Regions from separate parts of the Homo sapiens genome. Here all the other regions are linked to region 3. The links come from fine-mapping of genetic effects on gene expression. A gene starts in region 3. Each other region holds a variant in brackets. All regions are shown on one strand. Distances are between the middles of the regions. Region 1 overlaps ZBTB20 (zinc finger and BTB domain containing 20). Region 2 overlaps CFAP44 (cilia and flagella associated protein 44). Region 3 holds the start of CFAP44 (cilia and flagella associated protein 44).

Region 1 (2,767 bases), 910 kb before region 3:
GACCTAAGAATACCTATAACAGTGATGATCATTATATTTGAAATTCTTTTTTTTTTTTTTTTTTTTGAGACAGGGTCTCACTCTGTCGCCCAGGCTGGAGTGCAGTAGCATGATCTCGGCTCACTGCAGCCTCAACCTCCCGGACTGAAGCAATCCTCCCACTTCAGCCTCCCAAGTAGCTGGGTCTACAGGCACATGCCACCACGCTCATTTAACTTTTTTATTTTTTGTAGAGACAGGGTCTTACCATGTTGCCTAAGATGGTCTCAAACTCCTGAGCTCAAGCCATCTGCCTGCCTCAGCCTCCCAAAGTTATGAGATTACAGGCATGAGCCACTGTGCCTGGCCTCAGAATACCCTTATTAAATGACAAATAATTTACCAGGGAAAAGTTACATACTCGAATTCTGATACATGAAAACAAATTAGTTTCTCAAAACAACCTTGTTTCTCAGATCAGCTAGTAGGAATCCAAGAGAGAAGACATAAAACAGTGAAGTTTAGATTGGGGACTGAAGGGAAGGAAAGCAACAGAGATAGAGGCAAGGCATCAAACATGGAATTGTACAACTGAAACAGAACGTTGCTTAAGATGAACTTTGCCTTCTTTGCAGGGTAATGTAAGTCAGGACATTATGTAAATTAATGTATGTACTTTTATGAGAATCAGTTTTTAAAGATCACAGTATTCACACTTCCAAATAAACAGAGTGACTCACTACTGAATTTATGAAGAAACTTGGGTAGTGGTGAGTTGCTTTGTTTACTTGGGATAAATGTGAATGTACTAATAACCAGAGGTAAATCACAAGAAATTTTCCATATGGTATGGATATCACCATTATTAGGTGAATTAATCAAATAGTAATGTTTTTATTTTGTAGCATCTTATGATTTATAGAGTGCTGTCACATAGTTTATATCCTTTCCTCCCCTGGATAGCTGATTTATAAGCCATTAAATTAAGGAACATGGGGGAGGGGTGCAGGAAGGACCATCTGTGAAAGTATCTCCTTAACCAAAGTTGACTTTGCTGGTCTTGGATCCATAAACATATCTGCTCTCCCCTCTGTACATCTCTTCAAGTAGACCTATCAGATGTAAAATTCACACATTCTGTTAGATCACATAATAAAATAAGTCTTTAAATTTGCAACATAAAATTTTCAATGTACTACCAAAAAGTATCTTCGTGATGTATAAATACATTTCTCCAATGGATTCACTGAAGGATTCTGTGGTTAACCGAGATAACTAGATTTGGACATAAGAAAACCAGCAAAGGATTTGTGCACTCAGACACAGATGCAAAAGCTATAGGTAGAGTCATTTTATAAATCTGAGTTATGCTTAAAATGTGGACTTCAGTTTTCTAGTAAATTATGAACATCCTCAGTAAATTATGAATGTTATTGTAATGGTGTGTATAATATAGCCCCATCTGAAAATAATAATGTGCATATATCAATCAGGCACCTAATTTAAAAGAAGTAATGCTCTTCCCTTTCATTCCAGAATTATTTGGCAGTGGCAGTTTGGAAATCCTATCAGTCTTTCAAGACTATTGTCTAACTGAAGGATCCCCTAACCTAACAAAGTTTTAGAACAATTGGTCTAGATTTCAAAAAGCAAGACAGCCGGAACATGTGGAAATAATTCAAGACCTGGGTTCATTGTAGCTCGCATTTCCAAACAAAGTTCTTTTCAATTTCTAGGGAAAACATAAAAAAA[T/AT]GGAGCCTCAAAACTTTCCAAGAGCCCAGTGGAAGTGATAAAAATTCAAAGCAAAAAGTCCAAATGTTAGTATAAAAAGATTCTAGAAAGCACGGGGATACTTGTAAGAGTAGAGTTGGACTCTGTGTTCCCACCCATACTCTAACCAAAAAGAGTCCTAAAAAAAAAGAATAGCTTGACAAAGTTAAAAAGAAATTTGAGTTCTCTCCATTACAGCTGCTATGCAAACCAATAGACCTGCAGAGTAACTGTCTTAGCAATTCAGTAACTCCAAAGTTTAATATAGATGGTAGTTGCTTTCAACAACTGCAGATATAAATTGTGTGTGATGGTACACACCAATAGTCCCAGATACTCAGGAGGCTGAGGCGGGAAGATCACTTGAGCCCAGGAGTTTCGAGGCCAACCTGGGTACCTATCTCTTAAAAAAAAAAAAAAAAAAAAAAAAAAAAAAAAACCTGAAGAGAATAAATTATAAGATTCATATTCCAATTAAAATCTTGTACTGCTCTATGTTAATGATCCACATTCATGAAAGAAAGTGTTTGGGGCCAGGCATGGTGGCTCACGCCTGTAATCCCAGGACTTTGGGAGGTAAAGGTGGGTGGATCACTTGAGCCGAGGAGTTTGAGACCAGCCTGGACAACTTGGCAAGACCCCAGCTCTACAAAAACTATAAAAATTAACCAGGCATGGTGCTGCATGCCTATAGTTCCAGCTACTTGGGACGCTGAAATGGGAAGATCACTTGAGCCCAGAAGGCAGAGGTTACAGTGAGCGGAGATCACACCACTGCACTCCACCCCGGGCAACATAGCAGGACTCTGTATCAAAAAAAAAAAAAAAAAAAATCTGTTTGAGACAAAGAAGTAGTCCATCATATTGGCTTTGGAGCTAAGCTCTACCTTTAAGAATCAAGGAAGCTTTAGTTGTAAAGCATATTTCATAGTGATTATAACCCAAAAATTTAAAGTAGAGGCATAAATGAAAGACGATTGTACTGTAATTAGATGATTTGGATCCAGTTTTGTTTCCT
Region 2 (2,767 bases), 150 kb after region 3:
TAATACCTAACCCAAATCTTCACAGACTGAGTAGTCAGTCAACATTTGTTGAGTCGATGTGCTTTGATCAGTCCAGATACATTGGAGAGGAAACAGCTTAGAGGCAGGAGATCAGCTGAATGGGAGAGGAAGTTACTAGTTATCTGTCTCTTTACACAGTATATGTTTACATGTATGGCCTCTTCACATAGGATATTTCATTTAATCCCCAAAACAGTACTTTCTAAAGCTCAGAGGAGCTGAGTAACTTGCTGAAGCTCTTAGAGCTAATGCATGGTGAAGTTAGTTTTGAAATTCAGGTCTGTCTGCCTCCAACGCTGACTCCATTGCTTCTTACAATGATGTAGGCAGGAATTGGGATATAGTTGGTGACAACAAAAATGTGTCAAATATCAAAAGCCATCTCAAAGTAAGAATAACCAAAATTTGATTGAGTCTGGTGAGGAGAAGGGGAAAGTGAGGTGACTTCAAAGTAACCCACTGGAATGACTGGGCATGAGTTGGTGTATGAGGCATGCTTTTAGCTACAAGCAACCAAAAGCCCTATTGAGAGTACCTTAAACAAATAGGAGTCATTTTTCTCACTTGACAAGAAGTCTAGAGGGAGATGACTACACGCTTTGGTTTTGTAGGACCATGATGCCAGAGCCCATATCTCTGTGATTTTCCTAAAGTTTCCTTCAAAGTCACATGACAGCTGCTTCAGCTCCCATGTTTCACATCCATGCACCAGCCTCTTCTGTCCCTTTTATTAAGGAGCAAAAGTTTCAGATTATATCCACTTAGCTCTCTCTAGCTGGAAGAGAAAATGGGTAAGGTTAAGTGTTTAGCTTTCATGGGCTCTAAAATAAAAGTGAGCAAGGGAGAAGAGGCAGAGGGTGTTGGGTAACCCTTACTATGAAGGTCTGCTATAGTACATAGGAGTAATGGAAAAAGTATGGACTTTTAGCATCAGGCAACCTGTTTCTAACTCTGCTTCCAGCTTGACTTGGCTAGTTAATGACTCCCTGAGTCTCAATGTCCTTATCTGTAAAACTGGAATGATACCACCCAGTTCAGAGTCATTTTGGGGATTAGATGAGAGAGCATATGCAAAGCACCTTGCACAAAGTGGGCACCACGCAAGTATTATGTCTTTCCTTTCACAGATGTATTCATGCATTCAAATGTTATTGAGCATCTACTTATGTAGAAAGCACTAGGGCAGGTATTGGCAGAGTGATGAGACTTAGTCATATGGAGCCCTGTTTCTAAAAGACAGGATCTCGCAGGAAAGATAGGTATCAAACAAGCACTTTGGTCATGCTATATTAAATTGCCATTGTTTTAGATTTAAAAAATGGTCAAATATCATAAATATTACATGGTTCAGAATGAACCATGTAATATTCTGTAAATTATAGTGATGTATATGTATAATGGATGTTTCGATAAAACAGAAAGCAGGAAATCCTAACCTAGTCCATGGGGCAAAGAAGGCCTCCCTGAAAGTGATGTGTGAAACATGAGTAGGAGTCAGCTGGACAGGGAAATAACTCCGATGA[G/A]GAAACAGAAGATTTCATTCTGGGAACCCAAATATGGGCTGTCCAGAAAAAGAAAGACATACTCTGTCTTTTATTATTCCAGTGATGAGCTCTTTAGGTAATGAATGACTGATAGCTAGCTTAAAGTGTACTCATCCAAAGAGGATTTGCACTTGAAGAGTTGTTTATTAGCCCAAAGGCACACATTTCTAATGGTGGGATTTTAGCAGAGGAATTGAAGGCTCCCGAGATTAAGGAACAGTGGCTGTTTAGGGTGACTGTCAGGCCAGCACTCATCACAGATACACAGTATAAGGGCATGGAGTTTTTCACATGCCAAATGATGCTTCAACAGGGAGCTGTTTTCTTTCAACAGGGCAATGCCTTCCAGGGCCCTCGGGAAGCAGATGTTGTGGCAAGAGAGGAGGTCACTGAATTGATCCAACTCCAGGCGGAAAGGATTTCGGCCTTAAAGGAGGAGATTGCTCTTTTGCGTAGGAAAGGCAGTCTTATCCTCCCACCCATTCAGTCTCCACGAGAGAAAGAGATACAGCCCGCAGACCTTTGAGTTTGCTATTTTCTCAAACCCATACAAGATTTCTGACATAACTCACTGGAAGTTCTGTCTCCTCATCACCTCCAACAATCTTATTACTTTAAACTGAACTCGCCTGAAAGTGTAAAACCAGATCCAGTCACGTTAAGTCACTTTAAGAATCTCTCTACAATTTGGTTATCTTAGAACTGACTGCAGCACCCAACCTCTGTTATGAAACTGAATCATTTTAGATGTTTCGAACCTACTAGATTGAATATGAAGTCTCGGAAGGCTGTGTTTCATGATTGCAGCAAATCACCTGTAATATATTTTGTTTTAGGAAAATTTGATTTGGGGGTATCCTGAATTTTTAGCCCTTGGCAAGAAAAACTATCATTCAGCAATTCATGAGAAAACTTTGTTTTCTTGATCCTTAGAAAATAAACTTAGATGTTATTAAGTGTTCTCTGAGAGGATGCAGGAGAAAAGGACATTTTGTCAGCTATATCTTAGAATAGAAATGCAAATTTCAGTTTTGGCATTGTTGACTTCATAAAGCAGTGTTTTGAGGGCTCAGGATTCAGGAAATACAAACAGACATGGCAGAGCAGTTTGCTTTGGGTTGGCAGAAAGCAGGAAAATAACCAGCCTTCTTGGATTGCCCACAGTTTTTGTAGACTCCTCAGTTCTGAGTGGAGCAGAGGGG
Region 3 (2,767 bases):
GATTAACAATTGCACACAGTGCTTGAAATTTAGAGGTATTTCACCTGAAAAGATGTCTAGAGATTGAAAGAAAACATGCTGGGCATATGATTTGAAAATATAAATAACATGCTATTTAAAAATAAGTTTACCCTATGTTTTCTATCTTTTCTGGCACCTAGATATACCATTTAATAAGTAATAGCAAGGATAATCATTTTTTTAAGCCCTGGAAAATCTTGATTAAAGAGGACATTTCAGTATTGCAAATAAATGCATGGTATTTGTGTAACATTGTGGAAACTAATAAACACAAATTGTATTATAGCAATTTTTTCTTGCCAATTTTATTGACAAATAATTTATATACAATAAATGACATCCATTTAAAGAGAACAGTTTATTGGCTTTTGGCAGTTGTATATACCCATGAAATTACCACCACAATGAAGACACAGCATTTCTATCATTTCTAAGATTCCTTGTGTCTCTTTCCAGTGCATCTCACTAAGTCCTAGGCAACCACTTTGCCCAAGTCTCTAGACTATCTTGGATGTGGAATGACTTTGTGTATGTTTAACTTTTGAAGAAACCTCTCAAATAGTTTTCCAAAGTGGTTATGCCATTTTACATTCCCAACAGCAGTGTATGCGAGTTCCAGTTGCTCCATATCCTTCTGCATTTGGTGTTAGCAATCTTTGAAGTTTTACCCCTTCACGTGGATGTGGAGTTATGTGTATTGTGGTTTCTATTTCCCTTATGACTACTTTTAAGCATCTATCCATGTGCTTATTGGCCATACATATATCTGATTTGGTGAAGTATTCAAATCCTTTGCCCATTTAAGAAATTGGGTGGTTTTTTCTTATTGAATTATAAGAGTTCTTTATACATTCTGTATACAAAGTCCTTTGTCACATATTGGAATGACCATTTTAAAACAAGTATTTGGTAACTAATAACGTTAGGCTAGGTACTTTAAAAAACAATATGACCACAGTACTACAGAGAGGTTGAACAAACTGCTAAACCTAGAAATCTGTCAAGGGAGGCCTATACTTTTGTGCCCAGAGCGCTGCGACCAAGAAACCCACAACATAAAACCTGATTTACTCTTAAAAGCCAACAGAGATAATATAGTTTTAAAAATAACAAAAATCCCACGATGTATCTTTGTTGTTGATGTTGCCGGCAAGCTGCCTACTATCTCCCAGGACCCCTCTTAAAATCGAAGTTAAAACCTCAACATAGGAACGCCGCGATCAGGGCTCCGTTGGGCCATTTTGGAATATCAGGCAGGTATCTTCGACGGTATTCATGTCATTTAATTATCTACATGACGTCCTTTAGGGGATAATAAACTCGTCGGGCTTTTCTGTTTGGCTTTGAACCAGTGTCATGAGGCGGAGAAGGCCCGACCAAAGGGCGGATAGGTACCGGGTTCCCGGAGAGCTGGACGCCGGCCGCGCATGCGCCCCACGGCCCGCCCTGGTTCCGCCTCCCTGGAAGAGGGGTGGCGTTGTCTCGGTAACCGGAGTAAACGGAGGCCTCCGGCAGACGCTGTGAAGAGAGGAGCCGCGGCGGTCAGTACCTTCGGTGAGTTTGGACCTCAGCAGCCGGCAGTTTCCACACCCTCCCCCTTAAATCTGTGGCTCAGAGGGCAGTGAACCCCACTTGGGCTTCTCTCAGGCTGGACCAGTGTTATAGCCTTCGTCCTCCCTGCGGTAGCTCAGCAAACTTTTGAAGCCACGAGTATTCTCAGGCTCGGAGCTAGACACTGTGTGCACGGTTCCTGCCTGCAAGACCCTGTCAGTCTGACCGGGCGGAAGCCAGCCAGGCAGCAGGAGCACAGCTTAGACCCGGCCAAGTCAGAGCAGCAGCGAGTCAGCTGGGAAGGTGCTGGGGCTCCCCGCTCCAGTGAGACACCTGCCCTGCGCTCAGCTGGGTGCGACGCTTGGCACGCTGGGCCCTCTGCACTTCGGCTTCCTCATCTCCAGAAAGAAAGGTGATAATGTGACCTCATGGAGTTATTATTAAACAGGATAATACAAGTAAAGTGCTTAGCACATGCATGACACATAGTAGGTGCACATAAATATTTGTCGGATAATAGGTAAAGACAGTCGCATACATGTGTGCTGCTCAGTGTGTCCAGTCTATCATGAGTTGCTAAGGGTGCGTACTGATGAAAATCTTTGAGAGGAGAAGGCTAAGGAGGCTAGGGAGAGAGAGAGGGTGACTGTAGCTGGGCTGCAATAAGCTACAGACCCTCTGACAAGGGACCTTTACACCAGACCGAGGAATCTGAGCTCTTATTTGATAGCAGTGATGAGCCATTAGAGGTTTTAAGCAAGAGTGACACATTAAAAGCTGTGTTTTAGAAATACAAGCGATAGTGTAGAAAATGGGTTACAGAAGGGAAGACAAAGTATGACGGTACAGTAATGGTAGAGGTGAGACACAGTGAGGACTGGAACTACAGAGGGACAGCAGGGACAGTAGGAATGAAGGGAGGGGAGGAATTCAAAAGGCTTAATCACTGGACACCAAGTAACAGGACTTGGAAATCATCTACATGAATTGGGTGAGAGGAACGGATTCAGAGTAAATACGCTGCTTTCTCATCTGTAAAATAATGACAGTAATAATAATGGATAGCAAGACTTTGTCTCAAAAATAATAATAATAGGCTGTGCGCGGTGGCTGACGCCTGTGATCCCAGCACTTTGGGAGGCGGAGGTGGGTAGATCACCTGAGGTCAGGAGTTCGAGACAAGTCTGGCCAACAT

Evidence for each region.
Region 1: its variant is fine-mapped to the expression of CFAP44 in prostate (GTEx, PIP above 0.99).
Region 2: its variant is fine-mapped to the expression of CFAP44 in left ventricle (GTEx, PIP 0.93).

The regions. Positions count from the first base shown.
Region 1 is chr3:114,346,499-114,349,265 of GRCh38, reverse strand. The region is part of intron 11 of ZBTB20 (zinc finger and BTB domain containing 20); the gene reads left to right. Among named protein-coding and RNA genes, the nearest start is that of ZBTB20-AS1, 3.9 kb to the left of the region's middle. The variant T/AT (reference allele first, on the strand shown) is at 1,732.
Region 2 is chr3:113,290,881-113,293,647 of GRCh38, reverse strand. It overlaps CFAP44 (cilia and flagella associated protein 44), which reads left to right. Exons shown (of 35, transcript NM_001164496.2): 35 at 1,900-2,767. The coding sequence ends at 2,091. SPICE1-CFAP44 (SPICE1-CFAP44 readthrough (NMD candidate)) reads left to right here. Exons shown (of 52, transcript NR_183050.1): 52 at 1,900-2,767. Among named protein-coding and RNA genes, the nearest start is that of BOC, 81 kb to the right of the region's middle. The variant G/A (reference allele first, on the strand shown) is at 1,545.
Region 3 is chr3:113,440,261-113,443,027 of GRCh38, reverse strand. CFAP44 (cilia and flagella associated protein 44) reads left to right here and starts at 1,535. Exons shown (of 35, transcript NM_001164496.2): 1 at 1,535-1,575. SPICE1 (spindle and centriole associated protein 1) reads left to right here. Exons shown (of 18, transcript NM_144718.4): 18 at 1-310. It overlaps SPICE1-CFAP44 (SPICE1-CFAP44 readthrough (NMD candidate)), which reads left to right. Exons shown (of 52, transcript NR_183050.1): 20 at 1,374-1,575.